Linked DNA regions of Homo sapiens. The protein of the gene in region 5 purifies or fractionates together with the protein of the main gene of each other region. This does not show direct contact. Each region holds a gene or a part of one and is shown on either strand. Other genes may lie near its edges.

What was found.
Region 1: the proteins of GRK6 (region 5) and GLUD1 purify together in Homo sapiens (affinity purification with mass spectrometry; one large-scale study listed by BioGRID and IntAct). This does not show direct contact.
Region 2: the proteins of GRK6 (region 5) and PTGES3 purify together in Homo sapiens (affinity purification with mass spectrometry; one large-scale study listed by BioGRID and IntAct). This does not show direct contact.
Region 3: the proteins of GRK6 (region 5) and PFKP purify together in Homo sapiens (affinity purification with mass spectrometry; one large-scale study listed by BioGRID and IntAct). This does not show direct contact.
Region 4: the proteins of GRK6 (region 5) and MMS19 purify together in Homo sapiens (affinity purification with mass spectrometry; 2 studies listed by BioGRID and IntAct, with this or other methods). This does not show direct contact.
Region 6: the proteins of GRK6 (region 5) and DNAJC7 purify together in Homo sapiens (affinity purification with mass spectrometry; one large-scale study listed by BioGRID and IntAct). This does not show direct contact.
Region 7: the proteins of GRK6 (region 5) and PFKL purify together in Homo sapiens (affinity purification with mass spectrometry; one large-scale study listed by BioGRID and IntAct). This does not show direct contact.

What each region holds. Positions count from the first base shown.
Region 1 is NC_000010.11:87,060,344-87,063,843, reverse strand, and holds part of GLUD1 (glutamate dehydrogenase 1, mitochondrial isoform a precursor), read left to right. Parts: intron 1-1,008; coding exon 1,009-1,188; intron 1,189-2,791; coding exon 2,792-2,929; intron 2,930-3,018; coding exon 3,019-3,156; intron 3,157-3,500. UniProt on the Homo sapiens protein: Mitochondrial glutamate dehydrogenase that catalyzes the conversion of L-glutamate into alpha-ketoglutarate. Plays a key role in glutamine anaplerosis by producing alpha-ketoglutarate, an important intermediate in the tricarboxylic acid cycle.
Region 2 is NC_000012.12:56,664,285-56,667,784, forward strand, and holds part of PTGES3 (prostaglandin E synthase 3), read right to left. Parts: intron 1,983-3,500; coding exon 1,920-1,982; coding exon of another isoform or gene 1,872-1,919; exon of another isoform or gene 523-1,871; intron 517-522; coding exon 492-516; intron 215-491; coding exon 195-214; 3' UTR 1-194. UniProt on the Homo sapiens protein: Cytosolic prostaglandin synthase that catalyzes the oxidoreduction of prostaglandin endoperoxide H2 (PGH2) to prostaglandin E2 (PGE2).
Region 3 is NC_000010.11:3,105,548-3,109,047, forward strand, and holds part of PFKP (ATP-dependent 6-phosphofructokinase, platelet type), read left to right. Parts: intron 1-1,666; coding exon 1,667-1,762; intron 1,763-3,153; coding exon 3,154-3,246; intron 3,247-3,500. UniProt on the Homo sapiens protein: Catalyzes the phosphorylation of D-fructose 6-phosphate to fructose 1,6-bisphosphate by ATP, the first committing step of glycolysis.
Region 4 is NC_000010.11:97,488,423-97,491,922, forward strand, and holds part of MMS19 (MMS19 nucleotide excision repair protein homolog), read right to left. Parts: intron 1-3,500. UniProt on the Homo sapiens protein: Key component of the cytosolic iron-sulfur protein assembly (CIA) complex, a multiprotein complex that mediates the incorporation of iron-sulfur cluster into apoproteins specifically involved in DNA metabolism and genomic integrity.
Region 5 is NC_000005.10:177,433,176-177,436,675, forward strand, and holds part of GRK6 (G protein-coupled receptor kinase 6), read left to right. Parts: coding exon 1-64; intron 65-171; coding exon 172-235; intron 236-360; coding exon 361-501; intron 502-738; coding exon 739-929; intron 930-1,726; coding exon 1,727-1,764; intron 1,765-1,856; coding exon 1,857-1,946; intron 1,947-2,897; coding exon 2,898-3,106; intron 3,107-3,217; coding exon 3,218-3,355; intron 3,356-3,500.
Region 6 is NC_000017.11:41,979,440-41,982,939, forward strand, and holds part of DNAJC7 (dnaJ homolog subfamily C member 7), read right to left. Parts: intron 2,963-3,500; coding exon 2,816-2,962; intron 2,569-2,815; coding exon 2,416-2,568; intron 1-2,415. UniProt on the Homo sapiens protein: Acts as a co-chaperone regulating the molecular chaperones HSP70 and HSP90 in folding of steroid receptors, such as the glucocorticoid receptor and the progesterone receptor.
Region 7 is NC_000021.9:44,306,553-44,310,052, reverse strand, and holds part of PFKL (ATP-dependent 6-phosphofructokinase, liver type), read right to left. Parts: intron 3,373-3,500; coding exon 3,299-3,372; intron 2,794-3,298; coding exon of another isoform or gene 2,725-2,793; intron 1-2,724. UniProt on the Homo sapiens protein: Catalyzes the phosphorylation of D-fructose 6-phosphate to fructose 1,6-bisphosphate by ATP, the first committing step of glycolysis.

The DNA.
Region 1 (3,500 bases), on a different chromosome or scaffold from region 5:
AACCCCCATCTCCACTTTGCAGAGCTAACCACTGCTACCAAAGATACTCTGCTCACACAGAAGCACAGGACTCTTACCCACACATACCTTTTTAAAAATACTTCATTAAATACTTTCGTTACTCTACTCTTAGATGAACTTGAATGTCATGTTATATTAAGTATCAAGTTATATTAAAAACTTCCTTTTTCAAAAGTGGCAGAATACAACATTGAGTCTTCCCATCCAAGACAATTGTAAAGCCTCTTCCTGTCTCAGGCTCTGTTTTGGTGACATGCTCAAGTCTTATAGTAGATTTTAAGACACTCATGAATGGGATGTGTATGTACCTTGATTTAGTAGTGCTTAAATACTTGTTGAAGGAATGATAGCTTTAGGCTGAGCTAGCTCTACTTTTGTGATGTTATTTGTACTTACTTGATGTTCAATCCCTACACTCTTGTTTTTTCTGTCAGAAAATATGGTCTACTTTGCCGGGCGTGGTGGCTCACGCTTGTAATTCTAGCACTTTGGGAGGCCAAGGCAGGGAGATCACTTGAGGTCAGGAGTTTGAGACCAGCCTGACCAACATGGAGAAACCCCATCTCTACTAAAAACACAAAATTAGCCGGGCGTGGTGGCACGTGCCTGGAATACCAGCTACTCAGGAGGCTGAGGCAGGAGAATCGCTTGAACCTGGGAGGTGGAGGTTGCGATGAGCCAAGATCTCACCATTGCACTCCAGCCTGAGCAACAAGAGTGAAACTCCGTCTCAAAAACAAACAAACAAACAAACAAAAAAAAAAACAGAAAATATAGTATATTTTATTGTATTTTCTAGGAACAGAAAGCTGAAAAAGTGAGTCTTGTCTCTATTGGTAAAAGTATACCTTAAATACATTCATACACACACTCCTAATTAGCATATTTTTGATTAAATGAGAATGTGCTTTGACTTTAATTCATTATGTTCCTTCAACAGAGAAATTGGACTTGACATTTCATTCTTTCAATTACCCCCTCTTACAGGATATTAATGCACACGCCTGTGTTACTGGTAAACCCATCAGCCAAGGGGGAATCCATGGACGCATCTCTGCTACTGGCCGTGGTGTCTTCCATGGGATTGAAAATTTCATCAATGAAGCTTCTTACATGAGCATTTTAGGAATGACACCAGGGTTTGGAGATAAAACATTTGTTGTTCAGGTAAAAACAAAAACAAAAAAAGTTTCCTTAATAACTGATAGACATTAAGTAAAGTTTTCAATGTTTTTAGAATTGTAATTTTAAAATTAAGTTATCTCAAATCTCTTAAATTTTAGAGTGGTGGTTTTCAGAGTAATAGATATTTTGTTTTTTGAACCTTGGTATGATTCATGTAACTAGAACTGATTTAAGTATCTCTCAAGTACATGTGAAACTGTTACCAACTTCAACCAAACTATCACCAAATTCAACCAAAATATTGGTTAGTATTCAAACTTGAAATTATAGCTAGAAGGGCAAGTCTCTTAACATAATTTTCTAAGTTTTGTAAGTATATAGAAAGGTTTACACACTGACCCAAATTTGTTTCATGTGTTAACATGTATTTTACTTAGGAGAATCTTAATTAAGTTGAAATTACTTGAAAATAGAAGTGGTGGCTGGACACAGTGGCTCATGCCTGTATTCCCAGCACTTTGGGAGGCCAAGACGGGTGGATCACTTGAGGCCAGGAGTTCGAGACCAGCCTGGCCAACATGGTGAAACCCTGTCTCTACTAAAAGTAGAAAAATTAAGCCGGGCGTGGTGGCTCACGCCTGTAATCCCATCACTTTGGGAGGCCAAGGTGGGCAGATCACGAGGTCAAGAGATCAAGACCATCCTGGCCAACATGGTGAAACCCGGTCTCCGCTAAAAATAGGAAAATTAGCAGGGTGTGGTGGTACACGCCTGTAGTCCCAGCTACTCTGGAGGCTGACGCAGGAGAATCACTTGAACCCGGGAGGTGGAGCTTGCAGTGAGCCGAGATTGCGCCACTGCACTCCAGCCTGGGTGACAGAGCCAGACTCTGTCTCAAAAAAAAAGAAAGAAAAATTAGCTGGGCATGATGGCGGCACCTGTAATCCCAACTACTCAGGAGACTAAGGCAGGAGACTCACTTGAACCCGGGAGGCAGAGGCTGCAGTGAGCCAAGATTGTGCCATTGCACTCCAGCCTGTGTGAGAGAATGAGACTCGGTCTCAAAAAAAAAAAAAAATTGTATTTCTCCAAATTAGTGACATCCCTTTTCACAACATAGGACATCTGATCATCAAGGACTGAGGACCTGGTGGTGTACTTAACACCACTGCCATTTATTGATTGATTGAGATGGAGTCTCACCCTATTGCCCAGGCTGGAGTGCAGTCTCGGCTCACTGCAACCTCCACCTCCCAGGTTCAAGTGATTCTCCTACCTCATTCTCCCAAGTAGCTGGGATTACAGGCACGGACCCCATGCCTAATTTTTGTATTTTTAGTAGAGACGGGGTTTCACCATGTTGGCCATGGCTGATCTCGAACTCCTGACCTCAAGTGATCCACCTGCCTCAGCCTCCCAAAGTGCTGGAATTACAAGCGTGAGCCACCATGCCCGCTCATCACATTCTTAAACAGAGAATTTTATTGTTGAAGAGAAACCAGTTAGTACATTGTTTCTTTTGGCAAAAGAATTTTGAGAATTGCTTCTAAATAAACAGAGTATGGATTTACATTGGTCAAAATATGACTCTTGCTGTCTATACCAGGACTTTAATTTTTGTGTTATGGGTAATTGTTCTTCACAGGGATTTGGTAATGTGGGCCTACACTCTATGAGATATTTACATCGTTTTGGTGCTAAATGTATTGCTGTTGGTGAGTCTGATGGGAGTATATGGAATCCAGATGGTATTGACCCAAAGGAACTGGAAGACTTCAAATTGGTATTAATACATTTTTATAGCATAGACACTAAATATAAATATTTAAAACTCTGGTGCAGCTATTAATTGTGATTTTCAATCAATGGCAGCAACATGGGTCCATTCTGGGCTTCCCCAAGGCAAAGCCCTATGAAGGAAGCATCTTGGAGGCCGACTGTGACATACTGATCCCAGCTGCCAGTGAGAAGCAGTTGACCAAATCCAACGCACCCAGAGTCAAAGCCAAGGTGACAACATTATAGAAACCAGAACCAACATTATCAATGTGAATGACGTTAGGGGGGTCATAGAAGAGTCTGATTGAGTTTTCTCTTTCTTTTTAGCAGCTTTATTGGCACATACTGCACATACCATACAGTTCCCCCATTTAAGGTACATAATTTAATGGCTTTTAGCTACCGGCACAGAGTTGTGCAACCATTACCAAAACAAACGCATCTGCCTGACACTCCTGTAAAAAAAAAAAACAAGCAAACAAAAAAAAAACCTAGATAAATAGAAAAGTGAAAGGTAGTTTTATACACTTGGCAGAGAAAAATAACCTCTATTTAACTTTAACTGAAACTGTGCT
Region 2 (3,500 bases), on a different chromosome or scaffold from region 5:
AAATTGCCCCATACAATGGTACATATCAACCCTTAGTGAAGCCTTTTAAAAAACAAACAGGTTGAAAAATGGGTTAAAGTAGGCAAATACAGCATATCTGCCTTTAGAGCTATCAACTCAGGAATTCTCTCAATTATGAAATCTTGCAGAGAAGTTATTTTTCTTTCTCAAAATCCAGGTGATGACAATATTCCTTACTCCAGATCTGGCATTTCTGAAAGAATTTTTAAAAATATTAGTATATAGTACAAGTGAATAATCTACCAATTTTACTGTCTTAAAGGAAAAGCAACCAAAAATCGAAATACATAGTTGCCCAATGAATTAATAGGTTGTCTTGCTATCAAGTTATTCACATTTCTGCTTTGGTTATTTATTCAAGGTCATAAAGAAAAAATTACTTTACTTCCAAAGAAGTTAACATCTCTATTTTGAGTTTGTTTTTTGATGCAAAGTATCACTGTATAAACATACTTTTTATATACACTTACTTTCATCATCACTGTCTTGTGAATCCTGAAAGAGGGAAAATAAAGTTACCGAGCTGATCAAATATTCGTTTGCTAACTGAACAGTTTACCTAAAAAAGTTCAAGTGCTATATTTTTGACTAAAGTAGCACAGGTAGGTAGTCATATCAAGCCTAGAAATTTAGTCATTGGACTTGACTAGGTTTACCTAAGGTGAATGGATGTACAGCAGAGGATTTATCTACCTATAAAAAATGATGTGTGCCTTTTGGTGACAATTTAGCCCACCCGTTGAATCCATTCCTAAATTAACCTATCTCGGCATTCAAAGAGAAAACATGGATCAATATGAAGAAAAATGGACTGATAGAAGACAGTGAACTCTAATCCTAGCTGTTGAGTGAATATTAAGTGTTTTTCTAAATAGCATTAAATAACTTTCTGGGAGATGTTAACAGGATGCTGGGGTTGGAAAGATGTTGAGAAAAGTAGTTTAGTGTATCTTCCTCTTACAGATTTCCAATGTCCATCTTTTTTTTTTTTTTTTTTTTGGGTGGGGGGAGATGGAGTCTTGCTCTGTCACCCAGGCTACAGTGCAGTGGCGAGATCCGGCTCACTGCAACCTCTGCCTCCCGGGTTCAAGCGATTCTCCTGCCTCAGCCTCCCAAGTAGCTGGGATTACAGGCACCCGCCACCATGCCCGGCTAATTTTTGTATTTTTAGTAGAGATGGGGTTTCGCCATCTTGGCCAGGCTGGCCTGAAACTCTTGACCGCATGATCCACCCATCTCCGCCTCCCAATGTCCATCTGTTTTATCGGTCTCTGACCAATCCTGACATAAAACCTATTTAACTTACTTTCTTAGTCAAAATCATACCTATAAACTGACTCTCTTCTTTCTTTTTGAGATGGAGCCTCGCTCTGCTGCCCACACTGGAGTGCAATGGTGTGATCTTGGCTCACTGCAACCTCCGCCTCCCAGGTTCAAGCGATTCTCCCACCTCAGCTCACCAGTAGCTGGGATTACAGGCACCTGCCATCATGTCTGGCTAAGTTTTTAAGACAGGGTTTCACCATGTTGGCCAGGCTGGTCTCGAACTCCTGACCTCACGTACTCTGCCCACCTGGCCTGCTGGGATAACAGACATGAGCCACCTCGCCCGGCCTAAACTGACTGTTATAATTGAGTACGGTATTAATATATAATGTCTCTATACAATGATTCTTTGGAAATCTAATCCATTTAGGAATGGTCTACGGTACAACCAGTTCCCTAATAGATACCCCCATTCGTCAAAAATGGGCACATTTTAAAAATTGCTTTTCCCTTTTCTTTTTTTTTAGAAAATAAGAAGTAATTGTGAATCTATATAAAACCATTTGTAAATATGTTGTTTCTTACTATTTAATAGTATGAAAGTAAACAGAAAAAAGAATTTTTAGACTTACATCATCTGCTCCATCTACTTCTGGTAAATCTACATCCTCATCACCACCCATGTTGTTCATCATCTATTTGAAGTGTAAAAATTAGTTTTAAAAATGATGTTAAGTTAGGCCCTAATTATTAATGCTGTATGCTTCAGAATAAACCTTAAGTCTGCCACAGATATCAAAAAATGCAAAATGCAAATATAAGCATCTTTCCCTTCTGGAAAAGGAAGATTATAGGTAATTATACAAAATCCTAAAAACCCATATGGAAATTAAAACTAAATTTTCCCTAAAGAAAAGCAAAGCTATTCATGCAACAGGTTTGACAAACATTAAAAATTCTACTTGAGTAGTGGTTACCTCTGGTGGTTAAGGAAAAGAATGGGATTCATTTGTAGTTGCACAGCTATCTATCTTAAGTTAGGTGGAACATGTATTAAGGTATTCTTTTTTTTTTGAGACAGAGTCTAGCTTTGTCGTCCAAGCTGGAGTATGGTGGCGTGATCTCAGCTCACTGCAACCTCCGCCTCTGGGTTCACGCAATTCTCATGCCTCGGCCTCCAGGGTAGCTGGGATTACAGGCGCGTACCACCACACCCAACTAATTTTTTGTATTTTGGTACACACGGGGTTTCACCATGTTGCCCAGGCTGGTCTCGAATTCCTGGGCTGTAGTGATCCACCCACCTTGGCCTCCCAAAGTGCTGGGATTACAGGCGTGAACCACCATGCCAAGCCTTTTTTATTTTGAGATGGAGTCTTGCTCTGTTGCCCAGGTTGGAGTGCAGCAGCACAATCTCGGCTCACTGCAACTTCCGCTTCCCGGGTTCAAGGGAGTCTCCTGCCTCAGCTTCCTGAGTAGCTGGGATTACAGGCAGATGCCACCACGCCCAGTTAGTTTTTGTATCTTTGGTAGAGACAGGGTTTTACCATATTGGCCAGGCTGGTCTTGAACTCCTGGCCTCAAGTGATCCCCTTGCCTCGGCCTCCCAAAGTGCTGGGATTACAGGAGCAAGCCACTGTGCCAGGCCTGGTATTCTCATCATGGTTTTAGATATTGTGAAGAACCAAGAAATGATTTAAACTTAAACTATTATCAGATGATGAGAAACTTATTTTCTCAAGTTTAAACCATTTTTGTAATGTTTAAATTTTAGAAAAATAAAATCACATATGCATGGAAAAAAAATCAAACTTCAAAAATACATGATTACCCAGATTTTAGAATGGGAAAGGACCTTAAAAAGATAGTCAAACATACAATGGAATGTGTTCAGCCTAAAAGTATCATTCAGCCTTAAAGAAAAAAATCTGCCTTATGTGACAAAACACAATGAAGAATCTGAAGCACGTCATGCTATGTGAAATAAGCCAGTCACAGGACAAATACTGCATGATTCCACTTATATGAGATACCTAAGATTATGTAAGATACCTAAGATAGTCAGACACACAAAAATAGAGAGTAGAATGGTAGATGCCAGGAGCTGGGGGGAAGGAAAATGCAGAGTTGCTACTGTTAAATAGGTATCAAATTCCAATTACACAAAATGCATAGTTCCAGAGACCTACTACTGTACAGCATTATGCCTATAG
Region 3 (3,500 bases), on a different chromosome or scaffold from region 5:
TTGCTTTAATCAGGATCCCAAGTGGGACGGCATTTTAAGCAAGTGAAAAAATTTCTCTGTCTCCAGTTTGTCACACTTTGTATTTCACTCTATGGACTGTGAGCGTGGGGCATGTTTTCCTCTATGAAGGCTGAGACTCAAGGCAGAAGAGGTTTCATTTAAGACCTGAGGCTGAGACAGAGTGAGCCTGGTTAGAATGCCCCATGCGTGCCTAACTCCGGCAGGCAGACTTCAGGCACTGTTGGCTCCAGGCTCCACACAGCCACCCCTATCATTTTCTATGGGTGGGTCTTTAATTTGGGGCTTAATAGAAAGCGAGTCCATTGAGGATGAGTTAATCCACATCATGGAGTGGTCGCTATGTTCCTTTCATGACCTCTTTAGGCTCACGTGACTGCCGTGAGCATAGGAAGGACGACGGGGACAGCAGCCACGGTGGCCCAGCAGTGTGAGGCCTTTCGGGTGCAGCTGCAGCTGCCAGAAACCCACTGTCTGGGCCCTGTGTCCGCTCACGCCGTTTTCTCTCTCCCGACTCTCTGCTGCTGGAGCCTGTGTGCAATACAACCTCATCCCAGTGGCCAGGCTTCGGGGCCTCCCCTGGGAGGGCCGGGGAGGAGTGGTTCACAGGGAGATGGCAGGAAACTCTGGAGGGAGGCAGAAAGCATGGCGTGCACGGGGCGCCTGTGGGGCGTCCACCTGTGTGTCCTTCCCCATGGGAGGCAGAAAGCATGGCGTGCACGGGGCGCCTGTGGGGCGTCCACCTGTGTGTCCTTCCCCATGGGAGGCAGAAAGCATGGCGTGCACGGGGCGCCTGTGGGGCGTCCACCTGTGTGTCCTTCCCCATGGGAGGCAGAAAGCATGGCGTGCACGGGGCGCCTGTGGGGCGTCCACCTGTGTGTCCTTCCCCATGGGAACCCCTGTCAATCACACCAGCACCCTCCACCTGGGGCTGACTGGGGGCCACATTTCTATCTGCGGTGGTGATGTGAGCTCCCAGTCCCAAAGAGCTCTCTTCCAGTGAGCCACAGCCGCCCTGCTCCTTCACCCCTGCCCCTCTCCTCACCCCTGCCACTGCCCCTTCACCCCTGCCCCTCTCCTCACCCCTGCCCCTCTCCTCACCCCTGCCCCTGTCCTCACCCCTACCCCTGTCCTCACCCCTGCCCCTCTCCTCACCCCTGCCCCTGCCCCTTCACCCCTGCCCCTCTCCTCGCCCCTGCCCCTTCACCCCTGCCCCTCTCCTCGCCCCTGCCCCTTCACCCCTGCCCCTCTCCTCGCCCCTGCCCCTTCACCCCTGCCCCTCTCCTCGCCCCTGCCCTGCCCCTTCACCCCTGCCCCCTCCTCGCCCCTGCCCCTTCGCCCCTGCCCCTCTCCTCTCCCCTGCACTGCCCCTTCACCCCTGCCCCTCTCCTCACCCTGCCCCTGCCCCTTCACCCCTGCCCCTCTCCTCGCCCCTGCCCCTCCTCTCACCCCTGTCCCTCCCTGCTGTCACCCAGCACACCTTTCACCACCTTCTGATGTCATTGGGAAGCAGCTCTTAGGAAGTTAGGCAAAGATTCCTGCCCAGAAAGAGGCCAGTTCAGTTTGAGACAGACTTCTGTGGTTTTGTTGCATTTGTTGCTAAGAACAGGATTAGGAATTTGAGAGCTTTAATTTTCTGTCTCCACAGAACCGTGCCCGGAAAAAAAGGCTGAATATTATTATTGTGGCTGAAGGAGCAATTGATACCCAAAATAAACCCATCACCTCTGAGAAAATCAAAGAGGTGAGTGTGTGTAGCTGCTCACTTTCTCTCGGTTTCTGCCTGGAAGCAGGGGAGGCTAGCGTCATGGGCAGGCTTGGTTTAGAACATTGAATTATTAACTTTTTATCCTTGATATTTAAAACATTTTCATAATGACTCAGAAGTTGGACGGCAGGGGAAACACGCAGCTCCCGCTCCTGGGAGCCCATTCCGCTTACGTCACCTCTTGCCGAGCCCGTAGAGGTTCCGGGACTCCCCAGCAGACAGAGGGGGTCAGCTCGAGTGGCCACGCGTGTTCTTTGGATTAGAATGTTCCGGCTCTTAAACATGAGCTGCTCTGAGAATGAGGACTGACCACTTGGCAGCCGACCCGGGCTTCTGTTTGCCACAGTGGGAAAAGGCGGCGTCTTGCTATTCCCTGTGCCCTCCCATAACCCAGAGCATCAGCTGAGCACATTCTTACAAAGCCACTGTGTCCTCGTGGCCCTGCCTGGGAACAGGCTTTGGCAGGCTTTGGCAGGCTTCGTGCCCTGGGACTTGCTCAGGCCAGTGCCTGCCTGTCTGGAGAGGACTCTGATACCATGGGCTGTGCCCCTGCTGTAGACGGGGCTGCAGGCTGCCGGGGCTGGGGATGGGCTGTGGCTCCAGCAGCCACGGGGCAGAAGACGTCCCCACCTGGCTTTGCAAGTCGGCTTCTTTATTGTGCTTTGTTATGGTCAGTTAAGGAGCAAAGCATATCTCTGGATATGAAAACAGTGATGGACACCTGGGAAAGACATCTGCCAATATTTATAAGTGGTCATCCATAAAGTCCAGGCAAAGATTTTATTTCCCGCTTAACTGTAATTAAATTATAGGACAATGGACCGAGAAGGAACCAAGGAATTTACGTAGCCCAGCCCCACTGTCCTTACAGAGGAATAAGCTGAGTTCCAGAGACAGTCAGTGGCCTCTCCAGATCACCGGGCCGGTGTGCCCATGGGCTGGGGCGAGGGGAACGCCTTGATTGGGCTGGCTTGTGCTGTTCAAATCACAGCTGAACAAATTAAAGCTGGTTCAAGGAAGATGTTTACATTTTTTGTAAAATATAAGTAATAGTTTAAATGCAAGCTACTGAAACGTTACTTTTTTATTTTTCTTTTTTAAAGCAACGAACATATTACTTGTATTCATTTTCTAGGTGCGAGCCAAGATCTTGTCTGGTAACAACAGTATTATTTTTAAAACCAATTTTCAGCTGCCTGTTATATACACTAAACGTTCTGCTAGGAAACAAAATTTAGAAATAACTTTTCCCATTTAGATCTGAAGAAAGAGCGAAAAACCTTTTCCAGTGCCCAGTACCTCCTTCCAGATCTGGGCTGCTGTGTCCGCATCACAGTTCCGCATCCTAACGAGATGTTTCCTTGCAGCTTGTCGTCACGCAGCTGGGCTATGACACACGTGTGACCATCCTCGGGCACGTGCAGAGAGGAGGGACCCCTTCGGCATTCGACAGGATCTTGGTGAGTTGGGAAGGGTTGGGCATCTTCACAAGGTCTCTAGGAGGAAGCGTTTCTGGAGAGGCACAGGCACCAGCCGGCCACAGAGGCTGGCAAGGTGCTCCCCGAGAGATGCCCGCGGCCCGGCCCTCATCTTAACGATCCTTGAGACCTTTGGTGTAGACCAGTCTCTAGGCCTGCAGCCATTCAGATGCGGGGAGAGCTCCCTAATGTGGGAAGGCAGTGCTTGGTGTTGGCACGACGTGGACCCCAGAGGG
Region 4 (3,500 bases), on a different chromosome or scaffold from region 5:
GCTAGAAGTTTATCCTCTAGCTATCTAGTCATCTTTTGGTATATACATGAGAGACTGGCTCCAGGACCTCCTGAGGATACTAAAATCTGTGGATGCTCAAGACCCTTATATAAAATGGTAAGAGTATTTGCATACAAACTATGGACACTCTCCTGTATACTTTAAATCATCTCTAGATTACTCATAATACTTAATACAATCTAAGTGCTACGCAAATAGTTGTTACATTGTATTGTTTAGTGAATAATGACAGGAAAAAAGTCTATACATGTTTGGTACAGTTGCTATTTTTTCCCCCAAATACTTTTGACCTGCAGTTGCTTGAATCAAGGATGCAGAACACACAGATATGGAGGGCTAACTGTACTGTGAAAGTGCAAAATAATGCATGTATAACGTTATTCAATACAGCATTATTCGTAACAGTAAATGACTGCAAACAACACATGCCCATCAATAAGAAACCAGTTAAATGAATTATAGTACATCCATACAATGGAATTCTCTGTAGCTACTTTTATTTATTTTTTAATCTTTTTTATTTTTATTTTTTGAGACAGCATCCTGCTCTGTTGCCCAGGCTGGATTGTATTTTTAGTAGAGATGGGGCTTTTGCCATGTTGCCTATGGCTGGTCTCGAACTCCTGAGCTCAAGTGATCCGCCTGCCTTGGCCTCCCAAAGTGCTGAGATTACAGACATGAGCCAACACACCGGGCCTGTAGCTACTTTTAAAAAGACAAATGAAGAAAGACTGAAGCTACATATATACTGATAATGAGTCAAGATCTAAAATAACAGTGTGTATAAACAGTGTATATAATATGTGCGTAGCATTGTTTTTAAAGGGAGGGGGGATTGTTTTTATTTGCATTTATTTACATCTCTGGAAGATATAAAAGGAACTAATAACATTTGTTGCCTTCAGGGAGGGAAAATGCATAGTTAAGGGTTGAGAGGTAGACTATTGTTTTAAAAGAAATATTTCATTTTGGAATAATTTTACATTTATAGCAAAGTTGCAATGACAGTGCGGAGTTCCCGTATAGCCATCACTCGGTTTCTCTTAATGTTAACGTCTTACATGGCACACATCTGTGAAACTATGTACGAGTGTCAAAACTAAGAGATTAGGTTAGCACTGATACACACTATTAACTAAACTCTAGGCTTTATTCAGATTTCAATAGTTTCTCCACTAATGCCAAATTTCTGTTCCAGGATCCAATTAAGAATACCAAATTGCAGTTAGTCATCTTGAATTCTTAGTCTCTCCTGGTCTGTGAAAGTTTCTTAGTCTTTCCTTGTTTTTCATGACCTTGATAGTTTTAAAGAAGTACTTTATAGAAGGTTCCCCAATTTGCATTTGTTTGATGTTTCCCTCATGTTTAGACTGGGGTTATGGGTTTTAAAAAAGAATATCACAGAGGTGAAGTACCCTTCTCAACATATCATATCAGGGATATAAGATAGTAACATGGCTTCTCCATCACTGGCAATGTTAATGTTTATCACTTGGTTAAGGTATGTCTGCCAGGTCTCTGCACTATAGTTACTACTTTTCTCTTTCTGGTACTCTTTTATTTGTAAGGTATTCATTAAGTCCAGCTCACATTCAGTGGGGAGGGGAAGATTAAACTCCACCTCCTGGAGGGAGGAGTATCTACCTATATTATTTGGATTTTTTTTTTGAGGCAGGGTCTAGCTCTGTGCAGTAGTACAATCATGGCTCACTGCAGCCTCGACTTCCCAGGCTCAAGTGATCCTCTCACCTCAGCCTCCCGAGTAGCTGGGACTACAGGCATGCACCACCATGCCCGCCTAATTTTTGTATTTTTTTGTAGGGACAGGGTTTTGCCATGTTGCCCAGGCTGGTCTCAAATTCCTGGGCTCAAGTGATCCACCCACCTTGACCTCTCAAAGTGCTGGGACTACAGATGTGAGCCACTGCACCTGGCCTTTAAATGCAATTTTAGCAGCACAATAGTAACTCACATATATTGAAGAGAAGCATCTTAGAATGTATTTTCAAGGGAGAAACAGGGTAAAAGGCTAACAATCTTCATAAGGCTTTGGTTCACATTGAACACTTATAGCTAAATAAGGTGTGACAACCAGAGAATTACTTCCAGCAGCCTGTTCTGGGTTCCTAATCCACCTACCTCTAAATGCAGAACCTTAACTAGTCAGCTTGTGCCAATGCTGGAAAAAGTGAAAGAGAGGTCTGAAGAAATCCTAAACTTCCAGTTCTCCTAAAGTCTGTGGTCTCACAGCAACAGTTATGAGCTGACCTGGGCAGAGGCTCACTCTAGCACCACAGTAAGAAGTCGTCCAATGAGACTGAGGAAAATGAGAGCTCTAGTTAGGACTTATAGCTCGTGACTGGCACCAATTTAGACATCAGGCACTCTTAGCCCACTTGTGCCAGGATGTGGAAGGCCCAGCTGCTGCCCCAGCTCCTGAGAAAGAGCCAAGGGAAAAAATGAGCAGACTGTAAGGGTGGGGGAAGGGGTAGCAGCCAGACTAACAGGCCAAACAAACCAAGTTGGGTTCTATACCCAATTCCTTAATGGCAACACTTACATGAACTGAAACACCTATTTCTGGGTTACGAACCACAAAAGGGCATTGCAACATTTGGGAAGGTAGAAAAGGGTACTTTCTTGGAACAGCCTGGCTATAGTACAGAAAACTCTGCTGAAACAACCCATCTAAAAACTAATTTCAATAATGGGCACAGAAGGAGTTAATAATTGTACAGATGAAGCCATAGGGGACTAACAACTGTTAATAGCAAAGGATATCAATGAACTGAATCATTTTTCTTCAGCAATACCATCAAAACCCTCTGTGGATGTCAGGCTAGGGTCTATATTTGGAACGAAGGCTCTAAGACAAGAAGTGCCAAATAGGGCCCATTCAGTACCTTCTATTTTTTCATTTTTTTAAAAAAATTGAGGTAAAGGCCGGGCGTGGTGGCTCACGCCTATAATCCCAGCACTCTGGGAGGACGAGGTGGGTGGATCATGAGGTCAGGAGATCGAGACCAGTCTGGCCAATATGGTGAAACCCCATCTCTACCAAAAATTAAAAAATTAGCTGGGTGTAGTGGCATGCGCCTGTAGTCCCAGCTACTCAGGAGACTGAGGCAGAAGAATTGCTTGAACCTGGGAGGCAGAGGTTGCAGTGAGCCGAAATCACGCCTGGGCGATAGAGCGAGACTCCGTCTCAAAGAAAAAAAAAGAAAAATGCTTCTTTGGCATTCTGCATACATTAATATGAAAATGGCTGCTTTATAATTACAAATAAATAGCCATTTGCATGTGGTTCCTTGAATCCCAGTATGTGGGTGAACTCTCCTGGCAAAGCCCTTTAGTCTTCATATAGCTTTCACAAAATTCTTGAATTAATGCAGCACAAACATAAAAGTGACTATAAGGCCGGGCACGGTGGCTCATGCCAGTAATCCTAGTACTCTGGGAGGCCGAGGTGGGTGGATCAC
Region 5 (3,500 bases):
CTTTTGCCGACTACCTCGACAGCATCTACTTCAACCGTTTCCTGCAGTGGAAGTGGCTGGAAAGGTGAGCTCCCTGAAGGCTGGGCCGGGACAGGCCAGGTCGCCGGGGTTCTTCATAGGCCTTGGGCTCTCCTGCTCAGCCAGCGTTTGCTTCCCCACCCCTTGCCACAGGCAGCCAGTGACCAAAAACACCTTCAGGCAATACCGAGTCCTGGGCAAAGGTGGCTTTGGGGAGGTGAGTGGCCAGGCCAGAGCCCCTGGGAGAGTGAATAGGGTGGGTGTGTTGGGACCTGGACCACCCCCTGGATGCCCAGCAATGGCACAGCTGGCCCCCATTCGCCCCTGTCTGTCTGGCCACAGGTGTGCGCCTGCCAGGTGCGGGCCACAGGTAAGATGTATGCCTGCAAGAAGCTAGAGAAAAAGCGGATCAAGAAGCGGAAAGGGGAGGCCATGGCGCTGAACGAGAAGCAGATCCTGGAGAAAGTGAACAGTAGGTTTGTAGTAAGTACAGAAGGAGACTCTCCCTTCCCCTTGGCCACACTGGCGCACCGACCGTCCCCACCCCCCAGGCCCCACCCTCCCATGTGGGATGCCAGGAAGGGCGGGTTTGGGGTGTTGACACCAGGCTTGGGGAGCAGGCTGGGCCCAAGGAGTGGCACCGAGAAGGCTTTTTTGGGCAGCCCTGCCGCCAAGCGCCCCGCAGCTCCTGCCTGAGGGCTCGGGTCCCCTCGGCCACAGGTGAGCTTGGCCTACGCCTATGAGACCAAGGACGCGCTGTGCCTGGTGCTGACACTGATGAACGGGGGCGACCTCAAGTTCCACATCTACCACATGGGCCAGGCTGGCTTCCCCGAAGCGCGGGCCGTCTTCTACGCCGCCGAGATCTGCTGTGGCCTGGAGGACCTGCACCGGGAGCGCATCGTGTACAGGTGGGGAGGGCTCGGCCACCCCAGGGGCTTAGTCCTTCCCTGCCAGCGACTGCAGCTGGGCCTGGACGGGGGTGGCCAAGGCTGCCGATCAGGCCAGACTACAGAAGGACATTGGTTTGGGGGCTGTGGCACCGGCTTAACTCACACGCCAGGCCAACCTGAGTAGCCCAGACCTAGGCTTTGGGCTCTGCTGGACCCACGGGGTATCCTGACTTTGTCACCCCTCCACCCCCCACCGTGTGACCTTGGGCCAGGAGCTCCCTGCTCCCAACACTGCTTCCTTTTCTAGGAAGCAGAGACTATAATTCCTACTTCCCAGGTTGTTAGAAGTAGGCCCAACTTCCTACTGGAGGGGCCCAGTGAGCTAAGTACAGAGTGCCTGGCACATGGGGCTGGGTAAGAGAGAACCCTGGCTCTGATTGTTGCCGACTTCCTGTGAACCTCACAACAGCCTAGTCAGGGGACGGATGAGTAGTCCCATTTGATAGAGAGGAAAGGCAGAGTCAGTCACCAAGGGGTGGAGACTCCTTGGTCTCCACTGGGGAGGCCCCTCCGGGGTGGAGCTGTCTTCCACTCATCTAGAGAGTCCTGGGAGTCCTGGCTCTAGATCCTTCCTCTGCTCCCTTGAGTCCGGGCTGTTGCCAGGGAGAGCAGGGCTGTCTGTCGCCCTGGCAGCAAATGAGTCTCGCACCTTGCTCCACACCTGGCCCCCGGAGGCGAGTGAGCTGGGGGGGCTGGCCCCTTCTGACTCCCTGGCAAACTGAGCAGCATCTGACCCTGCTCTTCTCTCTGCACAGGGACCTGAAGCCCGAGAACATCTTGCTGGATGACCACGGTGTGTAAGGGTGCCTGGGGTGGGTCAGGGTGGGGTGAGATGCAGAGGCCTGGCCTGTTAACGGGTCCACCTGTTTCTCCACCCACACTCAGGCCACATCCGCATCTCTGACCTGGGACTAGCTGTGCATGTGCCCGAGGGCCAGACCATCAAAGGGCGTGTGGGCACCGTGGGTTACATGGGTGAGTCTTCTCTGCCCGGCCCACTAGCCTCCTGGGTTCCCTCACTATCCACCCACCCAGCCACACCCACTTCTGTCTGGGAGTCTTCTCTCAAAAGGGGCCTCAGTAGAAAGGGCCCATGCCGATGCTCCTCTTCTAGAGGTTAGGAGACCAAGACTCAGCCGGGGCCGCACACAGTTGTGAAGCCATGTCGTTCATTTGCTGAATACTTATTAAACCCTGCTATGGCTGAGCCTGCAGGTGGCTACCGGGGGATGGAGGAGAGAGACCCAAACCTGTTTCCGTGGCCCCAGTCCCTGCCCTCCCTGTGCCCATCTGTGAGGGAGGCCAGTGGAGGGGCCAACATGAGGCCCCACATTCCACCTGGAGACCGAGAGACGCAGGAGGCAGAGTCCTGGCTCTGCAGGCTCCGCCTCTTGCCGGTTGCGTGGCCTTGAACCAGACACTCCGCTGCTCCCGGCCTCACTCTGCTCCACTGGAAAACACTCATCATACCTGCCTCCCAGGGCTGCCTGGAAGATGAAAAGGGAGAGTTCAGGGAAAACTCCCCACAGGGCTGCCCTGGCAGGTAGGAGGTATTCAGAAAATAGGAGTTTCCTTCTTCTCGCTGATATTAAATCCAGAAGTTGCAAAATGGTAGCCACATGGGCCCAATTTGGCCTACATTTGTGTTTAAGTCAAACTGTTTTTAGTAAGCCAGATGGTTTCACATACAAAATACAGATTTCTGACTTCTTGTGTAAAATCTGAAGACCCGGGGACCCTGGGCGCGGCCTCCTGCAGGGCCGTATTCACCCCGCTTGATGGGGCCTGTGCTCTCCTACTGGCCAAGGTCCCCCCTGGCCAGCGGGTGTGAGTGTATCCCAGACCTAACGTGCACTGGCGTTCCTGGGGCCTGAGGGTCCACTGCCCGCCTCCTGCCCAGCCCTAACTCCCATGCCGCCCGCCCAGCTCCGGAGGTGGTGAAGAATGAACGGTACACGTTCAGCCCTGACTGGTGGGCGCTCGGCTGCCTCCTGTACGAGATGATCGCAGGCCAGTCGCCCTTCCAGCAGAGGAAGAAGAAGATCAAGCGGGAGGAGGTGGAGCGGCTGGTGAAGGAGGTCCCCGAGGAGTATTCCGAGCGCTTTTCCCCGCAGGCCCGCTCACTTTGCTCACAGGTACGGCAGCTCACAGAAGCCTGGCCAGCCAGGGCTGGGGTGGATGCACCTTTCCCTCCCTCCCACCCACTCACCTGCCTGGCCTGCCTGGCCGACTCACCCCTGCCACAGCTCCTCTGCAAGGACCCTGCCGAACGCCTGGGGTGTCGTGGGGGCAGTGCCCGCGAGGTGAAGGAGCACCCCCTCTTTAAGAAGCTGAACTTCAAGCGGCTGGGAGCTGGCATGCTGGAGCCGCCGTTCAAGCCTGACGTGAGTGCAGCCCACTCCTGCTGAGGGCGGGGCCCAGCCAGGGCTGGGGCTCAGGGGCTCTTGTAGTATCAGCCAGGATGCTTCCAGTGCAAGTGGCAGAAAAAACAATCTAGTGGCTTAGCCACAGAAATAAAGATAATTCACA
Region 6 (3,500 bases), on a different chromosome or scaffold from region 5:
GGCCAGTAGATCACTTGCGGTCAGGAGTTCAAGACCAGCCCGGCCAACATGGTGAAACCCTGTCTCTACTAAAAATATAAAAATTAGCTAGGCATGGGGGTGGATGCCTGTAATCCCAGCTGCTCAGGAGGCTGAGGCAGGAGAATTGCTTGAACCCTGGAGGCAGAGGTTGCAGTGAGCCAAGATGGCACTACTGCACCCAGACTGGGCTCAGTCTTAAAAAAAAAAAAAAAAAAAAAAAGGCCGGGCGCGGTGGCTCACGCCTGTAATTCCAGCCCTTTGGGAGGCCGAGGTGGGTGGATCACGAAGTCAGGAGTTCCAGATCAGCCTGGCCAATATGGTAAAACCCCGTCTCTACTTAAAATACAAAAATTAGCTGGGCGTGGTGGCGCACACCTGTAGTCCCAGCTACTCGGGAGGCTGAGGCAGAAGAATCACTTGAACCCTGGAGGCGGAGGTTGCAGTGAGTCGAGATGGTGCCACTGCACTCCAGCCTGGGTGACACAGCAAGACTCCGTCTCAAAAAACAAAACAAAACAAAAAACAAAATCCCAATAGATTTTCTTAGTGGAAGAGATGGTAGGTCTGTTCACCATTCACAGGTCAGGTCCTCTTTTTTTTTTTTTTTTTGAGACAAGTCTTGCTCTGTCGCCAGGCTGGAGTGCAGTGGTGCGATCTCAGCTCATTGCAACCTCCGCCTCCCGAGTTCAAGCGATTCTCCTGCCTCAGCCTCCCAAGTAGCTGGGACTACAGGCGTGCGCCACCATGGCTAGCTAATTTTTGTATTTTTCATAGAGACGGGGTTTCACCATGTTGGGCAGGATGGTCTCAATCTCTTGACCTTGTGGTCCGCCCACCTTGTTCTCCCAAAGTGATGGGATTACAGGCGTGAGCCACCATGCCCAGCAAATTTTTTGGCAGACAACTTAGAGTGAAGACTGACTGAATTAATTAATTAATTTTTGAGATGGAGTCGCACTCTGTAACCCAAGCTGGAGTACAGTGGCGCAATCTCAGCTCACTGCAACCTCTGCCTCCTGGGCTCAAGAGTTTTTGGTGCCTCAGTCTCCTGAGTAGCTTGGACCACAGGCATGCACCACCATGCTCAGCTAATTTTTTTGTATTTTAGTAGAGAGTACAATTTTTTTGGTATTTTGTATGTTGCCCAGGGTGGTCTTGAACTCCTGAGCTCAGGTGATCTGCCCGCCTTGGCTTCCCAAAGTGCTGGGATTACAGGCGTAAGCCACCGCGCCCAGCTCACAGGTCAGGGCCTCTTATCTCTGACAGCCCACAGTGAGCAACAATATTGACAATAGGTGTGCTTTATATCATGCTAAATCTTTTTGGGAAATTAAAATCTGTGAGTGTTTATAGGAATGTATGACATACATAAATGTCAGCATACACTTTGCAGTGGGTAAAAAAGAACTTCCAGATAATAGGAAAATGCTCATATTCCTTACCACATACAGCCCTTATGGCCTGTGAGCTCTGATCCAGCTACTTGCCGGCCTTCCACCACCACCTGCCTCTAGCACCCTATCCCTTTATCTTCCCTAGACCAAGCCCCCTGCAGATCCCCAAAGAGGCCATGCTTTGCTTTTTTAGTGGGGAGGGATGGAGTCTCACTCTGTTGCCCAGGCTGGAGTGCAGTAGCGCCATCTTGGCTCACTGCAACCTCCACCTCCCGGGTTCAAGTAGCTGGGATTACAGGTGTGCACCACCACACCTGGCTAATTTTTCTTTTTTCTTTCTTCTTATTATTTTTTTTAATTGAGACAAAGTCTTGCTCTGTCGCCCAGGATGGAGTACAGTGGGACAATCTCGGCTCACTGCAACCTCCGCCTCCTGGGTGCAAGCGATTCTCATGCCTCGGCCTCCCGAGTAGCTGGGATTACAGGCGCCCACCACCACACCTGGCTAATTTCTGTATTTTAGTAGAGACGAGGTTTCACCATGTTGGCCAGGCTGGTCTCAAACTCCTGACCTGGTGATCAACCTGCTTTGACCTCACAAAGTGGTGAGATTACAGGCATGAGCCACCGCGCCCAGCCTAATTTTTGTATTTTTAGTAGAGACAGGGTTTCACCATGTTGGCCAGGCTGGTCTCAAACTCCTGACCTCAAGTGATCTGCTTGCCTTGGCCTCCCAAAGTGCTGGGATTACAGGCATGACCCATGGGGCCATGCTTTTCTGCACTTCCAAGCCTTCCCTTGCTAGTGCTCGCCTCCTCAGAGCTCACTGCACACTGTGAACCTGCCACATTTGACTGCATTTGTTTGACTCCATGTCTATTACTGTTTGGACCAGGGATCAGATTTGGCCCAAATAGACTCTCCCTCTGGAGCATCTTTGGAAAAAATTCTAACATTCTACAGCTGTCAAATTCATCCCAGGCTGCCCCAGCCAACTCACCACCCATATTCATGCCCTCCTCATCTAGGTCCTGTCCACTGTCATAGCGAGTCTTTTTCTTGGGATCAGAGAGGATAGTAAAGGCCTCTCCAACTTCCTTGAACTTCTTCTCCTCCTCCTTCTGAACCTCAGCACTGGCTCCACTATGCCGATCTAAAGTGGGGAGTAAAAGAACAACTCAGTGGAAATCAAAGTTTCAAGAAAACAAAGTTTAAGAGAAAAACTACTTTCTGTCTAATTTTGGAATTTGGCACTTCCCAAAATTTGGAGGGTCCACAAGTCTGCAACACCTTATTCTCAGCTGAAGGACCTCTCCAAGGGGTCCCCTCTGGACTGAGTGTGGCAGTTGGCCTGCCCTGCGGGTTCTTCCCACTGAGCCCACTCCCCGCACCTACTCTACCTGGATGGTGCATCAAGGCCCGTTTCCGATAAGCTTTCTTGATCTCGTCCTCAGAGGCATTCTTGTCCACTCCTAGAATCTTGTAGTAATCTTTCCTCTTACTCTTCTTCAGTTCCAGCTGCGCATTTTTTAGGAGCTGTTTGTGTTCTACAGGAAGACATCTGGCATCAGTGGACAAATCTGACTCTGGTTTTTTCCTCACCAGGTCTCAGCCCAGCTGCCTGGGAGTTAGAGGCCTTGTTAACCATGCCAGGGACTTTTACGGTGCTTTCTTCTGGAGATTAGAAAAAAAATCTACTCGGCCAGGCACGGTGACTCATGCCTGTAATCGCAGCACTTTGGGAGGCCTGCATCAATGAGAGATGCAGGTAAATGAGACAGAAAAGGGAACTCTAAACACAGGTTTGCTTCTATTTCGGTAGCACGAAAGAAAGGAGGGGCCCTTGGCCCAAGATGGGAGGAATCAAGCTTGACAGAATGGATCACCCGAGGTCAGGAGTTCGGGACTAGCCTGTCCAACATGGTGAAACCCCATCCCTACTAAAAATACAAAAAATTAGCCAGGCGTGGTACCATGTGCCTGTAATCCCAGTTATTCGGGAGGCTGAGGCAGGATAATTGTTTGAACCTGGGAGGCAAAGGTTGTAGTGAGCTATGATCATGCCATTGCACTCCAGCCTGGGTG
Region 7 (3,500 bases), on a different chromosome or scaffold from region 5:
GCGGATGCCAGCTCAGCTGTGGGCTTCTGCTCCTCCCTCCGCCTTCTCCCCAACCAGGTGTCAGGGCCCTGGGGGCCAGGAGGGCAAGTGCCTCAAGCAGGCAGGGGGTCAAGGGATAGTGCGCGCTGCGGGGCGCATGAACATCCCCACTCTGGCCATGGCGGGCTTCTAGCCTGACAGCCTCCCTTCCCCACCAGCTGGGCTGGGGGACAGGTGCCCCTGCCCCATCTCAGGGGCTGATCTGAGGGACCACAGAGCTACTTCCTCCGGCTCAGGCCAGGCCAGCCTGGCCCCCTCTGGTTGTACCAGCCCTGAGCTAGGAACAAGGAAAACAGGAAAATGATCCCAAACCCACAGCCCCACCTGAGCAGGAGGCCACCAAACACAGGTCTGTCTGCAAAACTCAGGATCCAATACAGAGCCCAGGCGCCAGCCAGGCCCCTGCCCCACTGGGCGGAGGGGCAGGCAGGTATGGCCAGCCCAGCAGTCCCCAGAGACCCCACAAGGCCAGTGGCTCAGTTCTGCTGGAATCAGTCTCACAGACACAACCTCCTCCTACCCTTGGAATCTTCTAGAAGCTGTTTGCCCCCCTCTACCCACTCTGTTTCCGTCTCTGTCCTCCTAGGCCCAGCTCACCTTCCCCTCCTTCCCCTCTAGCCCCGCCCCCTCCTCTCACCCCTGCAGGCCTGGACCCAGGCTCAGGGCCCTCCCTGCTATGCTGTGGGCTCTGCCTGGGGGGATAAGAGTAGCCTGTTCTGAGCCCTCCTTTGTGTCAGAACTGAGAAGGGTTTTCACCTCCAAGGCCACCCTCCCTTTCTGCCCTAACAATAGCCCCAAGGAGAAGGGATCGGTCTCCCTGCTGAAGGAAGCCAGCGCTGGGGGCTCAGAAACCCAAAATGCAGTCTGATGTGAACTGACGCAGCCGCAGGTCTCCCTGACCTCCCCCTTCTGCCTCTCGACCCTCTGCCTCCTCCAAGCTCAGGATGCAGCTGCTCCCTGAAGCCCCCGAATCTGCCTAAAGCCCATAGCTGCTGGAGAAAGGAACAGTGACGGCCAGTCCCCTCCCTGAGTTTCCATGCACTGAGGTCATCGTAGGAAGAAAGACCTGTGTCTGCCAACACACTTGGGCAGGTGGTCACCAGGGCTAACAGATGCTGTCCAAGCCCATTGAATCCCCTAAAAACCATTCATGGCCGTGCACAGTGGCTCGCGCCTGTAATCCCAGCACTTTGGGAAGCAGAGGCGGGTGGATCACCAGAGGCCAGGAGTTCGAGACCAGGCTGGCCAACATGGTGAAACCCCGTCTCTACTAAAAATACAAAAAACAGCTGGGCGTGGTGGTGGGTGCCTGTAATCCCAGCTACTCAGGAGGCTGAGGCAGGAAAATTGCTTGAACCTGGGAGGCAGAGGTTGCAGCGAGCCAAGATTGTGCCACTGCGCTCCAGCCTGGGCAACAGAATGAGACTCTGTCTCAAAAAAAAAAAAAAAAAAAATTCCTACCCCCCTAGAATCATCCAGGCTGCCCATGCCCCTTTCCCTGGGAGGAGGGCAGGTCAGCATCTTCGCCCTACCTCTCCATGCCTATTCACAATGAATGCCAGCACCTCTGCCCTATTAATCCGCTTTTCGCAAGTGGATTCTTCCAAGAACCTTCATGGGACGGAGGGGAAGTCTTCCCTGGGCCGCTATATCAGAATGTCTCATCTCAAAATCTGCCTCTTAGATGTGGATGTTTCTGAGCTAAAGCCCACTAGGCAGCAGATTCAGGGAAGCTCTCAGCCTTGCCTCCCTTTGAGAGGAAAGCAGCACACAGCATCCCAAGACTAAGGCTCCTCCTGTTACCGCCTGGACAGGATGTAAATGCCCCTCACAGCCCTCAGGACCCAGAGACAGCCCCAGGACCCGCGCCCACCCACTTCATTCTTTTTCCCATAAACTCACCCTCCTGCATTCCCCCACCTCCGAGGGCCTCACGCTGCGTCCCTGTACCCCTCGGCTTCTCCATGTGCACTGGTCTCTGCTGGGCTCTGCAGAAGCCAGGACTCTAGGCACGGCAAAGTGCCTCTTCTCCCCTTTTCCAGGACACGCCCTGCACCGATGAACCTGTTTTCTGTCTTTTGCCACAGGAGTCTTTCCCAACCACAAATGTGTGGGGGTTCCGGAAAACCCTAATTTCTCCCCTTTGCCACTTAGAAGAAGAAACTGAAGGTCGAGCAGGTGGCAGGAGGGGTTTGTACGGACACAGCCCAGCCTGCCTAGAGAGGCCCCCACACCCAGCTCCCCAGGGCTCTGAGACCTGCTTCCTAATCCAATACTGGCAGGGCCCCAGCCTGGCCACAGGGAGAGGACGGGCCAGCACAGACTGCCCACTCACTCATTCATTCACACAGTCCTGCAGAGGGAGGGCTGGACAGGCTGCTGTTCCCTGGGGCCAAGATGGGGGAACTGAGACCCAGGGCGGTGAGTGGTCAGCAGCGAGCAGTGAGCAGTGAGGGGGGTGGGGCTGAGTGCCTGGGGCTGCAGAGCTGGGGTTGCTACATTTTATATAAACAGCTACATATTACATAAAAAGTGGCAACAAAATAACAAAAGACCTTGTCTTGTGGAATGTGGAAAACCACCTGACAAGGCAAGAATGCAGCCTGTGAGTGCGTGGTGTGGCCCAAGTGTGTGAATGCGCCTGTGTGTGCACATGTGTGAGCGCAAGTGTGGGTGTGTAAATACCCAGGACGGAGGGCGAGCCCCAAATCTCCCACGGGGACTGGGGCTGAGGCAGTAGGGCATCCGCTGCTCCTGCGGGGACACAATGAACATAGACACAGCAGAGCTGCTGCCAGCGGCTGCCCCCCGGGTCTGGGTGGTGAGGCAGGAGGCTGGGGAGGACAAGGGCAGAGGCGGTGAGGTCCCTGGCCCCCACTCACAGAGGCCTCGGGGCGGGACAAGGGCCAGGCTGGGGGACACCAGGCAGGGGTGTGGTGGGTGGGGCCTGGCCCGTCAGCGATCACTGTAGGCAGGGCCTCGACTCCTTGTCCACCCAGCTCCTTCCCTGCCCCCAGGCCCGTGCTCTGCAGCCTCTGAGCCTCCAGCCGGGCTGAGTCCCAAGGCAGTAGGTCTTCTTTCTGCAGATGCCTTTGGCCTGGCCCCAAGCTCCCCCTCACACTCCCCAAGACCACATACCCATCAGCTCCTCCAGGCCAGGACCACCCCGTCTCCCAGTGTGACCCACACAGAACACACCTCGGCATGCGCCTCAGGAGGTCCCCACTCCCTGCACACACACAGCCCACCTTGGCCTTACCTCGTAGATGAGGAAGACTTTGGCACCCACATAAATGCCCATGCGCGTCACAGCCCGGACAGCAGCGTTCATGCCTGTGGAGGTCAGGGCAAACCTGTCAGTCCCACGCTGAGAAGCAAGGCCCTGGACACCCTCCCCATCTCAGAGGACAGGGGGTAGGGGAGGCCTGGACACCCTGTCCATCTCAGAGGGCGGGTGGTGG